3 separate regions of the Homo sapiens genome follow, and all the other regions are linked to region 1. Evidence: fine-mapped expression QTL. A gene starts in region 1. Each other region holds a variant in brackets. All regions are shown on one strand. Distances are between the middles of the regions.

The links. PIP is the estimated chance that this variant, and not a neighbour inherited with it, causes the effect.
Region 2: its variant is the best candidate, but not a certain one, in a credible set for the expression of GPC6 in atrial appendage (GTEx, PIP 0.82).
Region 3: its variant is the best candidate, but not a certain one, in a credible set for the expression of GPC6 in aorta (GTEx, PIP 0.69).

Annotation. Positions count from the first base shown.
Region 1 is chr13:93,224,535-93,229,766 of GRCh38, forward strand. It overlaps GPC6 (glypican 6), which reads left to right and starts at 2,273. Exons shown (of 9, transcript NM_005708.5): 1 at 2,273-3,082. The coding sequence starts at 2,923. RefSeq lists enhancers at 1-459, 2,866-3,708 and a silencer at 3,762-4,056.
Region 2 is chr13:93,768,889-93,774,120 of GRCh38, forward strand. The region is part of intron 2 of GPC6 (glypican 6); the gene reads left to right. Among named protein-coding and RNA genes, the nearest start is that of GPC6-AS2, 87 kb to the right of the region's middle. The variant A/C (reference allele first, on the strand shown) is at 2,355.
Region 3 is chr13:93,761,478-93,766,709 of GRCh38, forward strand. The region is part of intron 2 of GPC6 (glypican 6); the gene reads left to right. Among named protein-coding and RNA genes, the nearest start is that of GPC6-AS2, 94 kb to the right of the region's middle. The variant G/A (reference allele first, on the strand shown) is at 2,271.

The DNA of each region.
Region 1 (5,232 bases):
TTCCTACTACACACAAGATGAATACTACAGCTAGGATTCCAGCCATTAGCTGACCTTTTTGTCTAAACCAGATGCCTGCTCCTCCATATGACCTCTCTCCTGTCTGGTCAGGCCTCTTCCAGGAACTTCCATAACATTCCATTCTCATTCCAATCCCTTGTCTAGGCTCCTGCTGTGGCTCTCAGTGTTAACTGGAATGTTTGACTTTGTCTCTTACACCACTGCAAACAGTGTGACATTACTCAACAAATGGACCAGGCAGGGTTAAGGTCACCAGTAAAGCAAGTTATCTAATTCTTTGGTCTGACTTGAGTTCACAAACCTACCCTAAACTATTTGACTCTCCTGATGGAATTAAACTAATCTATTTAGTCATTCGTCTCATGTAATATCTTTGCCACAAATCCTAAGATCATTTTATAAGTATAGGGACGGTGTGCAATAGTCTAGTGCTATAAAGTTGTATTGAGTGCTCATTCAATACTTAACAATTAGCTGATCTTCAAATAATTTAAAACCACATATACTATGCTTTTACCCATTCTTCCTTTACCTCCATTTAAAATAATGAATTATCTGCTATACTGAGTCAGGGTAAATTACAATGAGTCCCAGGATAAGGTGGTAGGACAGGAAGTGTGTGTTTTTACCCTCTTCCTCTGGAGTGCATAATGCTTTACTATGATACAAAGAGAAGTTTGAAGGAAGTCACGTTGTCAAATATGACAGAAGTAATAACTTGACTGCAATTCCTGAGCCTATCAACCTCACCGTTTGTCCACAAACATAACCAGAATATATTTTATCTTGATTTCCGACTTGAGGGAAAATAAGTTCAGTGATTTAAGATCTGCCAGTTAGCATAAATATTGTGAAAGCAAAAAACTGTGCTAAAATTTTAAGAGAAAAAAAGTTAAGTGTGTTGCGTTTTCAGAAAGATTTAGCTATGGAGTTTTTTTTTTTGTTTTGTTTTGTTTTTTTTTTTTTTGGTTTTGTTTTGTCTTGACCTATGAGTTTGAAGAAGACAAAGTGGCTCTGTAAATAAGTCGACTTCATTTTTAAAGCGTTTGGAAAGGTTAAATGAGGTTGAATCTTGAGAGTCTTTTTGGTGGTTAGGAGAGGGGGAATTTATTAAAGAGAGGAAGACAATGTACCTAATATGTTGTGATGATAATGACAAACTCAAAGATTTAAACTTCATGAGTCATTCTGGTCATTCATATCATCATCAGGAAAACATCTTCATGTGTAGCTTCATAGGTGAGCTCCACAAAACTGTGCATTACCTTGTAGTAGTTTGTGAATAATGTGCTGACCTATGACACATAGCCACGTAAGTGAATAAACACTATTATTATTATTATTTTGTCTTGGTTTTCATTAAACTATCTTAGTAGTTTCAGGAGCTCTGGGTTTCAACACACACTTCTGCCAGCTGACTTTAGTGCGTCCATTAGCATAACAAAGTCAATTAGGCAAACCTGAATTTTCACTTTTATCCCGTTCACAGAACATCAGTGTAAATGGAGACAGGAAGAAGAAATTGGATTGATTCTCCACTTGAGAATTATGTTAACTTGGAAGAAAATGTTAAGTCTACTATGTGAGGGCATCTAGTGAGAGGGAAGGAATCACCTCCCTTCCCCCATTATGTCCCTTTATGCACCTCTGACCCTTGTGCTCTCCTTTTCTTGTTGCTTCTGTGGTCTGGTTGTTAGCTTTCCCGATCCTCCACACATTAGAAACCTAAGCATAATGATTTCTGATCGAAGGCTATGAGATATTTGAAATAAAAAAAGGGGAAATTGTTGAGTCTAGAACCAAACCTTTAAAAATTAAGAACTACCAGTCTGTAATGTGTGCCTTTAGAAAAAAACAAAGTCAAACAGAAATTAGGCAACTAGTTAGAGCCGTGATTGTGCTCTGCCACCCATGAACTCCCGTCTATGACTATTTCCACTCTGGCTTTGTGTTTCAGTAGGTCAGGGACACATATTAAGAGCAACAATTGGAACTGCGTTATCCTTTACCTCCATAAAAATACAGCTTAATAACATGTTAATGACTTAAAATTACCTTGTCTTTCTAGATTGTTTATTGATGTCATTTCAGATCGGTATAAAGGATGTGAAGTGAATAAGAAAATAGGTACGTTTCTTTTTCTTTTTTTCCCCTTTCTACCGACTAGGAAGAGATCCAGTCCAGGTTTTGCCTTTGACTCGGCCTGTGAATTTCGGCTGTGCAATGTGTAGCACGTTTCTTTCTCCCCCCTCCTTTCTCCTTCCCTCTTGCCTCCAGTGACTGTCTCCAGGATTTCTCTCTTCCTATTTCAGGAGGACTCTCACAGGCTCCCACAGCCTGTGTTAAGCTGAGGTTTCCCCTAGATCTCGTATATCCCCAACACATACCTCCACGCACACACATCCCCAAGAACCTCGAGCTCACACCAACAGACACACGCGCGCATACACACTCGCTCTCGCTTGTCCATCTCCCTCCCGGGGGAGCCGGCGCGCGCTCCCACCTTTGCCGCACACTCCGGCGAGCCGAGCCCGCAGCGCTCCAGGATTCTGCGGCTCGGAACTCGGATTGCAGCTCTGAACCCCCATGGTGGTTTTTTAAACACTTCTTTTCCTTCTCTTCCTCGTTTTGATTGCACCGTTTCCATCTGGGGGCTAGAGGAGCAAGGCAGCAGCCTTCCCAGCCAGCCCTTGTTGGCTTGCCATCGTCCATCTGGCTTATAAAAGTTTGCTGAGCGCAGTCCAGAGGGCTGCGCTGCTCGTCCCCTCGGCTGGCAGAAGGGGGTGACGCTGGGCAGCGGCGAGGAGCGCGCCGCTGCCTCTGGCGGGCTTTCGGCTTGAGGGGCAAGGTGAAGAGCGCACCGGCCGTGGGGTTTACCGAGCTGGATTTGTATGTTGCACCATGCCTTCTTGGATCGGGGCTGTGATTCTTCCCCTCTTGGGGCTGCTGCTCTCCCTCCCCGCCGGGGCGGATGTGAAGGCTCGGAGCTGCGGAGAGGTCCGCCAGGCGTACGGTGCCAAGGGATTCAGCCTGGCGGACATCCCCTACCAGGAGATCGCAGGTAAGCGCGGGCGCGCTGCAGGGGCAGGCTGCAGCCCTCGGCTGCCGCACGTCCCACTGGCCGCCCGGCGTCCCCTTCCTTCCCCCTGTTGCTGAGTTGGTGCTCACTTTCTGCCACCGCTATGGGACTCCGCGTCTCCGTGTTGGGCGGCGGATGCTCCTGCGGCTTCTTCGGCGGGGGAAGGTGTGCGTCTCCGCCGCCTCATTGTGTGCACACGCGGGAGCACCCTGGCTCCCGCCTCCCGCTGCTCTCGCGCCCTTCTACCCCTTAGTTGATGGCTCAGGCCCGGCTGGCCAGGGAGCCCGGGTCACTCCGGGGCGGCTGCAAGGCGCAGACGGAGAGCCGAGCCGGGCGCTCACTCCGCGTTCTGGTTCGGGCAAACTTGGAAGAACTGCGACCGCAGTTTGCCCAGCGCCACAGTCTGAGTGGCGCCTTCTCCACTCCCGCCCTTGCGCCGGCAGGGGCGGTGGAGAGACGCGGAGGGCTCCCCCAGCCCCTCTCTCCCCTATCCGTCCTTCGGGCGACAGAGCGCCCGGCGCTCGGGCCGGGGGCGGGCAAGGCTGGGAGGGACCCTCGCCGGGGACCTGGCCTCTGGACGCCGGCGTTTCAAGGCTGGTTTGGGGACTTCACGGGCTGCCTGTTTCAGATGTGGGGCGGGCTTTCCCGTTAGGGTTCCTCAGTGCTTCCCCAGTTGCTGTTGGCCACTCAGGGCCCGGGGACACCCTGCCACCCGGTCTGGAGCCGGCCTCGTCTGCCAGCGAACAGCCAACTTTAGCGGGTGGCTCAGCTGGGGATTCGGGTCCGGGTTCGGGGGCCCCGTGTCCCCCGCATGCCCGGCCACTGGCATTGCTCCACCAAGAGCTTGAGAGCGCCCACCCTTTCTCTCGGCGCCAGTGTGTGTAGCACTTGGTCTCCGACAACTTGCGCGGCAGTCTGGGTGCTTGTTTTCCGGCTCTTAGCTCCAACCGAATCCGAGCTTCTCTGGGGCTCTGTGAATGAAACGTGTCGGGGAGAGATAATCCTTTGGCTGCTAAAGAACAGAACTGAGAGAGGCCGAGGGAGGCCAGGAGATGCTGCGAGGGCGCGGGCTGCTCAAACCGGGCAGCTGAAGTCCTTAGTGACCTCAGATCGTCAAGTCAAAACGCTGAATTTCCACCAGCCTCTGTCTGCTTTTTGCCAAATAACTGGTGGATGGATGAAAAGCATTTTGCAGATATCTTAGAACATCACAGTTTCGATACGTTGAGGAATTACTATTTTCTTATGATTTTCAAGCTGTAGAAGTGAGGGTTTTTACTTACACTGAAATGAACACATTTAAATAAATTTGAGCATTGGCAAAGGGGGAAAAAAAGAGGCGCAAATTACCACGCTCATTATATAGAAGGAGCTTTTTCAGTTCAGAGCCAGACATTCCCTTTGCTGAGTCTAAGTTAGAATCTGTGGTGAATTATAAGCCTACTTTTCTATCCTTGTTACTTCTTCCTTCTTTTCCAGAACTCCTTAATTTGTTAATCAATGAATAGAGAGCGACTGTCCCCACAGCTCCTTAAGTTTCTTAACTCTCCTTCTCCTTTGTCTACTGTTATTTCATTCTTTTTAATTAATTGATAAGGATCAGCTTCGCTTTTTTTTTTCCCTCCCCAAATCTCAGGGAATTCAACTTTTTAAAAGGTTTATAGTATGGATCACTTCTTCTAGGAACTTTTTCTCCTTTAATCTGGGCTTTTTCAAACGGTATCTTTTAAGCACACAAGATATTTCCCAACATGATTTCAGATAAGATGTCTCAAAGAAGAAAATAGTTAGGTATTTTTAAATTGCTTCGGTATTCTTTAGAGGATAATGGGACTCTCAGGAGACTAGAGTTCATCCTCAGCATCAGGCACATCTCTTTAATATCAAAGTGAAGATTTTCAGTGTAAAACAATTTCTGTAGTCACCATGAATGTTTGTTGAGAACATTCCCAGGGGTTCATGTAAATTCTTCGGTGGATATTTAACTAAAGAGGTTTTTGTTTTTGTTTTTGGTTTCCTCCCCACCTTTTTACAATTACAGTGTTTGCTTATTAGCTATGAATTTCTAAAATGTGTGCACTTTTTTTTTTTTAAACTCACCTACTTTCCATGAGTAAGGGCATACTGTTAAC
Region 2 (5,232 bases), 540 kb after region 1:
GCCCTTTTACTAGATCCCAACTGGGAGCTTTATGGGATTATTTTTTTCCTACTTAACAAAAGTGGGATTTAAACTCTAATTTCCAAAAACATAGTGGCTAGCTAAAATTGGTATTGATTTAATGTTCTGGGTCAATTTTAAGTGATAAATTAACATTAGCAAAAAAAGAAGTTTCTAAATTCTGTAAATCACATGGGATTTTTCATCGGCTCATTCCCTTACAATCTTTTTCTCAGGGATAAGGTTTTCTAAGTCAATATTTTCCCAAATGCATGCCCTTTTGTCTTCCATTAAATATGGTAGTCTTTGTTTCTTCAATGGCCATGTGAGAACAGAAGGAAAATTTCTTCTCAGAGAAGACAGAGCAAAGTAATATTCTTGCCAAAAGTTATCACAGTTTAATAGCAAGAAGGAATGTACACGTCTCTAAACAAAATGTGCAATGCTTTCTGATGCTGACACCATTTATTTAGTCTTATTAAATAGCTGGTAAAATGATCCAAGTTTCAGAGAAACACAAGCTGTGAGTGGCTGCTGCACGTGACAAAAAAAAAAAAAAAGACAGCCCCAAAAAGCAGCAGGGAGAAGATGTGCGCAGAGTCTGGGAGGATCACCTTTCTCCACAGCTTTCCCTTCCAAACCTCCAAACCCAGGCACTGCTTTCCTCTTGCACTCCTCTTCTCCTGATATCCATTCATTCACCTTATTTCTACACTCTTACCCCTTCCATATTTTTAATTAACTTTTCTCTTTGTGCTTGCACACTTGCTTTGCTTTGCTTTCAATCTATAGTTATTTTATGGGTGGCTTGGCACCTCAACCAGATGGGAATTAAGTGGAAGGCAGAAGTTGGCTTGCACACACAACCTCTAAATAAATGCAGGCCTGGGAAGGATGATTCATGCTTTACCTGTATTCTTTCAGCTGCAGTCAGTGTTTTTCCAATCTTGGTAGGCACCAGCATCACCTGGAAAATTGTTAAAGCAAAACATGCTTTGACTTGACTCCAGACATACTGGGGCTTAAATCTCTGTATTTATTTGCCAAGTAGTTCAAAATTTAGTAGTTGGGGGAATGGGATCACCAACCATTATGGTTTGCCAAGGAACGAAGGATTTCCTGAGCTGTGTGCTAAAGCCTGAATACTTCTGAGTAAATTGAGACATTTAGTTACCCTATTTAGGGTTGAAGATGAGGGCCAAAATAGTGCATGCATCTGTCTGCTTTCCATCTTTCCATCCTAATTATTCTAAAAAACCATACAACCCCCACTTTTATGGGTATAAAATAGTTATGTTACTTATCTATTTTTATTTTTGCATATTTTTTAGTTATTGCGTGGTTTATTACATATAATGAGAGCAACAATCTCATAACATTGGTTTTAGAATTAAATGAGATAAAATATGTAAAGCACTTAATGTAATGCCTGATACTAAGTGTTCAATGAATGTTACATATTATTTCTCTTTAGGTCCAAAGGTATTTATTTTCTTCTTGGCTTCCTGGAATACTAATCTTTGGTAAAGGAAGTTTCTCACTGGTCTCCTAAGCCGGCAGTGGTCTGAGGCATGCCACCATTTCTTTGAGCTGTGATGTGTTATATCATCTTCTTCCAAGACAGGCCCTCTTAGCTAGTGTGCTAACTGGACTTTCTCTCTCTGACTCAAAGGGGCTGTGCCTCAGAAGCTTTGTGGAGGTAGAAAGGCTTATCCACACTTCCCATGATAGGAGAGGGATTCTACCCACCTTCTTTCTGGATTCTTCTATGGACTGTAATGATTTCTTCCTCAGTAGTGTCTATTCCCAGACCCAGCAACTGCTTTTTGAAATTTGCTTGCAGACATCAACCCTGCAACTCTCTATCTAGTTCTCAGCACTTCAACTTAAGGCTAATATTAGACCAAGACCCACTTCCTCTAGAAATAAATCCTTTTCTCCCCCATACTTTCTTGGTCAAATAAGGTTACAGACTTATTTGGCACTTACTTAAGTAGTTTTTTTTTTCATCCTTAGGATGGTTCTCAATTTGTTGACTGATGAAATCATAAAACGTAACGTAACCCTCTAGGTAGCAGAGGATGTGCTTTGTAACATCATCCAGCACTCCTTGTTGCATTATCCTACAGTCTCAGTAATCTGCATTGTCTCACAGATCAAGCCATTTGCTCATTCAGTCTGTTCTGTGCCAAACATATTGATAACACATACACTGAAGGACTGCTGGCATTGCCCCTCCCCAGAATAAGCAAACAAGTCATCTTTAAAAGCAAGTTGTTTCAGCCACTTTGATAGAAATTAAGTTGCATACAAGGTCACAAAGTACATCAGTGAACTAACTGGAAACACAACCC[A/C]ACAAGGCCCACTCCCAAGCCTGAGCACTTTACTGGATCACGCTTCCTTCCTCGGTGAAAGGCTTCCCACGGCAGGAAGAACCGGAGAGCAAGCCTCTAAATTATACATGACTGTTTGTCTCATTTTCACTCCGTGGCTAATTGAAGACACAGGGGAGTGCTGCTTTTTTGGCTTCATCTCTCATCGCATCTCATTTGTCTCACACGTGTCGGGGAGTGCACTCTGCAGGTTAGCTTTATGAAGGGTTGAATGGAATTTGGTGAGCTTTGAGGAGTCCCAGGATTACAAGTTCTTTGTCTTGGTTCACAACAAGCTGTGCAGTCCCCTTTTGTTTGTTTCCTCATTTGCCATTTTAAAATAAAGTAAATACCTAATGCTAGATGACGAGTTAGTGGGTGCAGTGCACCAGCATGGCACATGTATACATATGTAACTAACCTGCACAATGTGCACATGTACCCTAAAACTTAAAGTATAATAATAATAAAAAAAGTCAAGCATAGGAGATCCACAGTTGATAGGAAAGGAATGTGAATCACTAAAGAGAAACCATCATAATATTTAAATGACCAAATAAGGAACATGAAAATGTTTCTTCTCCTATAAATTTTAAGCCTGTGGGGAATCAAACTTAGATTAGTTTTAATAACAAAAGTTCAGAGTTCATTGTACCTTGTTCTGCCTGCTGAAGATTAGCACTGTGGTGGGAGTGTATATCCAGGTTGCCAAAACCACAGTTCTGCTTGGTTCAGTGACTCACAAATTATAATTTTTGAAGCGTTTGGAAGAAGAATTTCCATATCATATCTGACAATATGCTTTTGGCCCATAGCCCTTAATGCATTACCTTTTATGTAGTATAGGCTCAGTGCACTTTTGAGAATTAAGCAACAAAAATAGTAATAAAATGTCACTGATGATAAAGAAAAGTAATGGCATCAACTAATATTAGATAACTGTAGGATGATTTATTGCTTCTGTATGCATTTTTTGTTCATATCTATGAAGATATCGGCATTGGTTAGGTTTACAGATGTCTGTGAGAAAACACATCACCCTCTGTCAGGAAGGGTCATTGACTATTAAATTGAACAATAGACCTAAGTGTGCTCACTTGGGTTTGCAACAGCTAAAGCCCTGTTGTCTCCTGCTTGGTCACTCCTACCTTGTATTAAATATGGATTTCATGCATTACATGGAGTTTTCAAGGATAGAAAGAAGGATTTCAGTGGGACAATCTAACTTTGGACATCTTGTGATGAGCAGAGAGGCATCATTGAGAGGAAGAGTTTTAAAAACAGGTGTACTTCAGAAATATTAAAAGGCGATATATACACAAGGAAGAGAAACAAGAAAAAAAGAAGTTTGGTTAGGAAAGTCCTATAATTTTTTACGTGGAAAGAAATCAAAGGCAAAGCAAATGGAAGGATGCTGTCCTGATAGAAGCTGGGGTGTGGAGGAAGAGTAATGAAATTCAGAATGTTGGTCCTGCACAGGGTCTTGCCAGACACATCCTTATCCTCGGTCCTCAGATGAAGAGCCCTGTCTCCTGGAGCCTGAGGGCCAAGTGCCCAGATGCACTATCATTCTAAGGAATTGTTCTGGTCAGAATCTGGAGTTTTCAACTCCCTTCTGTGGTCCATTTTTATTATGGATGCTGCTTTGAAGGATGGATAAAGTGCTAGGAAAAGTTGTTATCATCTAAAAAACCAGAATTCTTTCTACTCAAAGGTCTTGTTCTCTACCATGTTCCCGGTGGGACATTTTCTCTGTAGTTTTTTCCAATATATAGTAGGTTATGACAGGACACTGCTTATCCTCACAAGGAAGGCACTTCTGTTAAGAATTCAGCAAAAAGAAAAAAGAAAAACTAGGAGAGAATAAGAAATGGAGATTGTTTAAAGAAAAAGCAAAATGCCACTCTAGTTAGTAATACTGCCACTTAATGACAGAATTAGTAAAAGTCATGAATAAAGCCTGCATGATGGATTCACTTTTTCAGGAACTCTCTTTAATAATACAATGTTATATTCTGAGTAACAACTTTACGTATAAATTAAATAAGTTAACATGAAGGCATATATGTCATAATCTTAGAGATGGTTCATCAATAAGCATCTCAGAGACCCCATTGAGACATATCCTATTCTGGGCTCTGGAAATTGATGATGAAAAAGACAGGGAATGTCTATTCAGCTTCAGTATGCAGCTGATTTTTTTTTTGATGTAGCTTACGTACCCCAAAATCTTTCCAAGTAGATTTAAAATGGTCCATTCCTCATCCTTCTGCCTCACTCAGTCTTATGGTATGTGACTGTAGGGGTTCCTGTGTAGTTTTAAGTTGCTTCTCTGCAAAATTCCTTAGCTAATCAGTACTTGAGCCCATGGTTTTCTCACCTACGTTTCACGGGTTCAGTCTATGCCCTTTGATTTGGCAACTCCTTTTCAAAATATTATCTGTGATTTTCATAGCCATCAAACCGTTACCACTCCTGCCTCACCCACTAGGGTCTCTGCTGTTTAGACTTTAATAACAAGCATTGAGTCTTACAAGAGATTGCCATTGGCTATACTGGCATCAGATTCATCAAAAAGGAATGGGATGAAAGTACAACTTGCCAGCAGAGCAACTTAAAATCTTCTTTTAAGGGAGAGATTTTATAGCAGTACGTAGTGCCCAATAGACATCATTTTGCCATGCAGCAGACAGTTCAGGTGTAAGAAGACATGTTGAGATCAGACAGTCAGAAGAACTGCTTTGGCTTAGATGCCTCATGCCTCCAATGGAACCAATACTTCTGACAGATCCGTGGGCATAGCTGCCATTGTATATGACATGGGGCATGCCAGTTAGAAAAGTCACCACATTCAGGGACA
Region 3 (5,232 bases), 540 kb after region 1:
CCTGTGAAAAATAATTTGTTAAGCTTTGCTTTTTAGTTTTAAAATTTTTAAATAGAGACAGGGTCATCTTGCTCTGGTGCCCAGGCTGCAGTGCAGTGGTGCAATCATAGCTCCCTGCAACCTAGAGCTCCTAGACTCAAGTGATCCTCCTACCTCAGCTAGGACTACAGGCATGCACCACCACACCGGGCTAATTTTTTAAAATTATTGTTTGTAGAGACAGGGTATTGCTATGTTGCACAGGCTGCTATTTTTTATTTTTAATGAAAAATTATTAATTAGATATATTTATGGGGTACAGTGTAATTTTCAATATATGTATGTACTGTAGAATAATCAAATAAGCATAATTAACACATTAGTCATCTGAAATACTATCATTTTTTTGTGATGAGAACATTTAAAATCCACTCTTTTAGCTTTTTGGAAATATACATTATTATTAACCATAGTTGCCATCTGTCCAATAGAACACCAGAAGTCATTCCTCCCATCTAACTAAAACTTCGTACATTTTCACCAGTGTCTTTCCTTTCTCCATTGACTCTCCTTTTCCCCTTCCTCCCGTCAGCCTCTGGTAATCACTGTTCTACTCTCAATCTCTGAAAGTTTGATTTTTTACACCCCACACATAAGTGAGATTCTGTGATATTTGTCTTTCTGTCCCTGGCTTATTTCACTTAATGTAAGGTTCATCCATGTTGTCACAAATGACAGAATTTCCTTTAAAAACAGAATGCTATTATCATGGTGGCCAAACAATAAGAAAATTAATATTCTTCCTCTTTGTCTTTAGAAATTAGAAACAGTCTAATGCAGTTCTGAAATCCTACAGCCTCCAAAACCAGGAAATTTCGTTGATAGTGTATTTCCTGATGTCTGCTATTGGAAGCATAATGATCATTCTCTCAGGAATCCCTCGGTCAGAGTTGCAACTGATTATATGAATCAATAAATGCTTCTTGACCTGTGGTCAGTGTAAAAGCAAGGTTCTAGGGATATAAGGTTGTCTGCCCAGAATGGAGCTGTAAGCATGGATACAGAAGATCCTGGAACAACAGGCAGGTGAAGGAGAAAGAAGCTACTGAGAGTTACAAAGCATGCAGTAGAGTGGGATTTATGGACTGGCAGGGAACTTTAAAATAAAAGGTTATGCTTGACTTGGCTGTCACCTTTAAGGAAAGAAAATTAGGTTTTTCAAAAAATATTATGCAAATTAAAAAATGACCTAACCAGCCTTTATGGATAAATCTATACTATTGTTCTAAGTCAGGTTCTGATGTGCTGGTATACAGATAAAATACAGATCAATTTACTCGTTGAATGATTGGCGACCATACTAATTGGGATTCATAACTGTCACCCACCATTTATGCTATTTGAGAGCAATTCTGCACGTAGGTAATTATAGTAGATTGCCCCTGTGCCAAGAAGACATTGCATAAATCCTTCAGCTGAGATACGACTGACAAGCTGTGAGTAATAGAGTGCACCTTGGAAAAGATTTATATTTGAGGCCCAGTTAGCTGGAGTGCTTTATACTTTTCATTTCTCAATAACTTGACTGGAACTAAGACAGTCAGTTATTTCCCAAATTCTCCGTTTTCATGATAGGATAATCAATAAAGAGCAACTATTAATTCAGTGTCGCTCTGATATACTAGACTAGACAGTTTTACTATGTTATTGATTACTTCTGTAATTTACCACTGGGGGTAGACACTCTGAAGGTCATTAGACATAGGTTGCTTCTTAGTGATGCAAGTTCACTTGTGGTAAGCAGAGGTTTTGTTGCCATGATCAGCTGGACTCTTTGATTCCCTATGATGCATGGAGCAAAGAATAGCACAATTTCATCAATCATACATCACATTGCATAGCCTACAATCAAAGGGCAAGGTGGTGAGGTGGCTCTTTCTGTGCAGATGGAGTTCTCAGAATGAAGCCCCAGAAGGGCTACTTGCCCCTATCCTCTCATATCATAGGACTTTGGGTAGCCCCCAGCTGTTTCCCTGCACCTACTCTCTCGGAGAGGTTTTCCATTACCATCAGGCATCATTCAAGGAGTTCTCAAGAAATAAAGTAATCTATGTGATACAAGTTTCAAATATAGTCCTCAAAGACATCCTGGACAACTGTTCTTTCCAAACTCCCATGATTTATCATAGGATATTTCAGCCAAGACATCTTCTGATTTCTAAAAAGAAATATCTGTCAGCAGAATTTGTGCACTTTGTAAATTATCTGCTTTCCCCCAATAACATGTTGCT[G/A]TGTTAGCATTAACTTGCTGACCCTACGCTTTCTCCCCAAGATTTGAGATGTTGGAATAATTAGCAAACCCTTCATCTTTATTTTTTTTTTTTATCTAGGCCATGCTTCACCCTGCAAGACTCTCTCCTTTATCCCATTCCATAAATATCTACCACACATATTCTATGTGGCTTTCCTTGCATAGAATGTCAGGAAACACTGTCTATACCCTTGTTTTAATAAGTTGTTGTCCTTTCAAACCTTTGCACTTATATCACAGATCGGATCTACTGATTCCTTTTGAATTCCTCAATAGGTACCTCCCTGCCAATCACCTAAGCACCTAAAGCCCAACTATCCCACTTTCTTAGAGATACTCCTCTTAATTTAGATACCTAGTCCTAAGCTTCTAAGCCTCTAATATATAGTAGACCTTTTGCTATATGTTAGACCCTTTGCTATGTATTTTGTAAGATTGGAGGGGTCTGATTTGTTGAGGAGAGGGGAATAAACAAATCAGACTCCTCCAATCCTACAAAATGCTACCTTTCATTATATGCAACAATAGCATTTTTAGGAAGTGATGTGTTTGTAATATTTTGTTATATTTGACCTTGCCATTTTTAACATGCCTTTATAAAAATAATTTCTTATGTGGATTGGTTTTTCAAATGGACCTTGATAACTCCAAACATTTTATTTTAAACTTTAGTATAGTGTTTGGTTCATATCTACTAGGAATAAATTAATTAGTGCCACAGATGGACCACCAAAATTTGAGACTTTTTGGGATATTTTTTGTACCTTTTTTTTAAAGAATATGAAAGTTATTTATGAGAAAAAAATAAAGATGTAAACACACACACACACACACACACACACACCACACACACTCACAAAGGCCACCTATAACCATATTAATGACATATCTATGTTAACAAAACCATTGTGTGAGGTTAGAGGCAGAAGGGGTGCATGGTCAAAGCCACAGTTAAAAGAGCAACAGAAGGAGAAAATATAGTCCTGGAAGACTAGAATTAAGTCATTCAGAAAAAACTAATACAATGTTTTTATTTATTTATTTATTTTTTAGACAGAGTCTTGCTCTCTTGCCCAGGCTGGAGTGTAGTGGCGTGATCTCAGCTCACTACAAGCTCCGCCTCCTGGGTTCAAGTGATTCTGCTGCCTCAGCCTCCCGAGTAGCTGGGACTACAGGCGCGTGCCACCACGTCCAGCTAATTTTTTGTATTTTTAGTAGAGACAGGGTTTCACCACGTTAACCAGGATGGTCTCAATCTCCTGACCTCGCGATCCACCCTCCTCAGCCTCCCAAAGTGCTGGGATTACAGGCGTGAGCCACCGGGCATGCCCACAAGATTTTTTAAACAATTCATAAGCATATGTTTTTATAGGTCCATTTAGATATACCTAGATTCTCTATGTAATTGAAATAAACACATTTTTATAGACCATAGACCATTATCTTTTTATGAAAAAAGATAAATTGTCTGGAAAGACAACTTTCCAGATAAGCTGTCTGGAAAGACAACTTTCCAGATAAGCTGTCTGGAAAGACAACTTATTTGGTTTAAGTATTAGAAATCTTTGTACTTATAAATATATGCAACCAGATGTTACAGTTGATAAAGATGCATGAAAAATGGCCAAACATAATATTTAAGGATTTTACTAAGGAAGGTTTAAGGGATATAAATTTCATTTCTCTTCCATTAATATATACTATTTATATTATAAACTTTTTTAAAAAAAATGAGATGAGTTTAACTTACATTTTCACTTCTGTGCCTTCTAGAAAATAGAATCATATGGAGAAGTCAAAACTTTGTCACAGAATTAATGTATGCCCCAGGTTACCTGCATTATTCATAGTAAGGTTAATCTTTGGGATAATTATTGTCCCACTTAACAAACATTCACAGTGGTAAATTACATAGCACCCTAAAGCTACAGAAATACAGGACAATTAATGAAATGCAAAGGTATCTGATCTGATTCTAGTGCTGACCTCTTAAAAGTAAAATCATTGCTATTATTCCTGTTAAGAGAATTTTCACTTCATGGAATGGGCCTGTGCCTCCAAGAATAACATGGAGCTGTTCTCAAGTTGTTTCACTTTTTTTGAAAGTTAACCTTTTGATATCATGGATAAAAGTTAACATTTGTAAAACTCAAGCTGTTAGCCCAAATGCAACCTTGCCTCCTATGTTAGTACATTACGTCAATGACAAATGAGCCATAAGTTTCAACTTTACAGTAGTAGTAGATACCTTGACCTTTGAGACCTCACTCAAGTCATACCATGGGTGTTCTGATATTTTGGTGGTGTTTGCAGTCATGTGCAAAGAAAAGGCTATGTTTTAAGTTGTATAGGTCTTAATCAGTACAGATTTCTGTTCCTATTCAAATATAAACTTTATAAAAATTTTCAGAAGTTATTCAGCAAAAGAATTAAGAATTCAAATGATGCCGTTTTTAATGAAATTATAAAATTGAAGGAGATCTGCAGATGTCTCCTGAATCCTTGGAAATACGACCAAGTCATAGTGCAGTCATTAATGGATTTTGCATGGGTAAGTTTCAAGTCTGAAACTTTTCCTTTGTTAAGAAGTCCAGTTAATCAATTGCATTAAATTAAAAGATGAATGAGCTCTAGAGATCTGCTGAATAGCATTGTGCCCATCGTTAACAATACTATATTGTGCATTTAAAATTTTGTTAGGAGGGTAGATAATATGTTAAGTGTTCTTACTATAATTTTATAAAAGGTAAATAAATAAATGAAAATAATATACTGCCAATGGAATTTGAAATAAAAATTTAAAAAGAGTATTGATAGATTTTATATTATGTCCAAGGAAAACTATTTTAAGTGGACTTAAATTTGGGAAAGGAAAGGAAGAATGATACAAAGACATACTGTAAGTATTTTTATCATTATTTATCATTAAATATATTAAGATA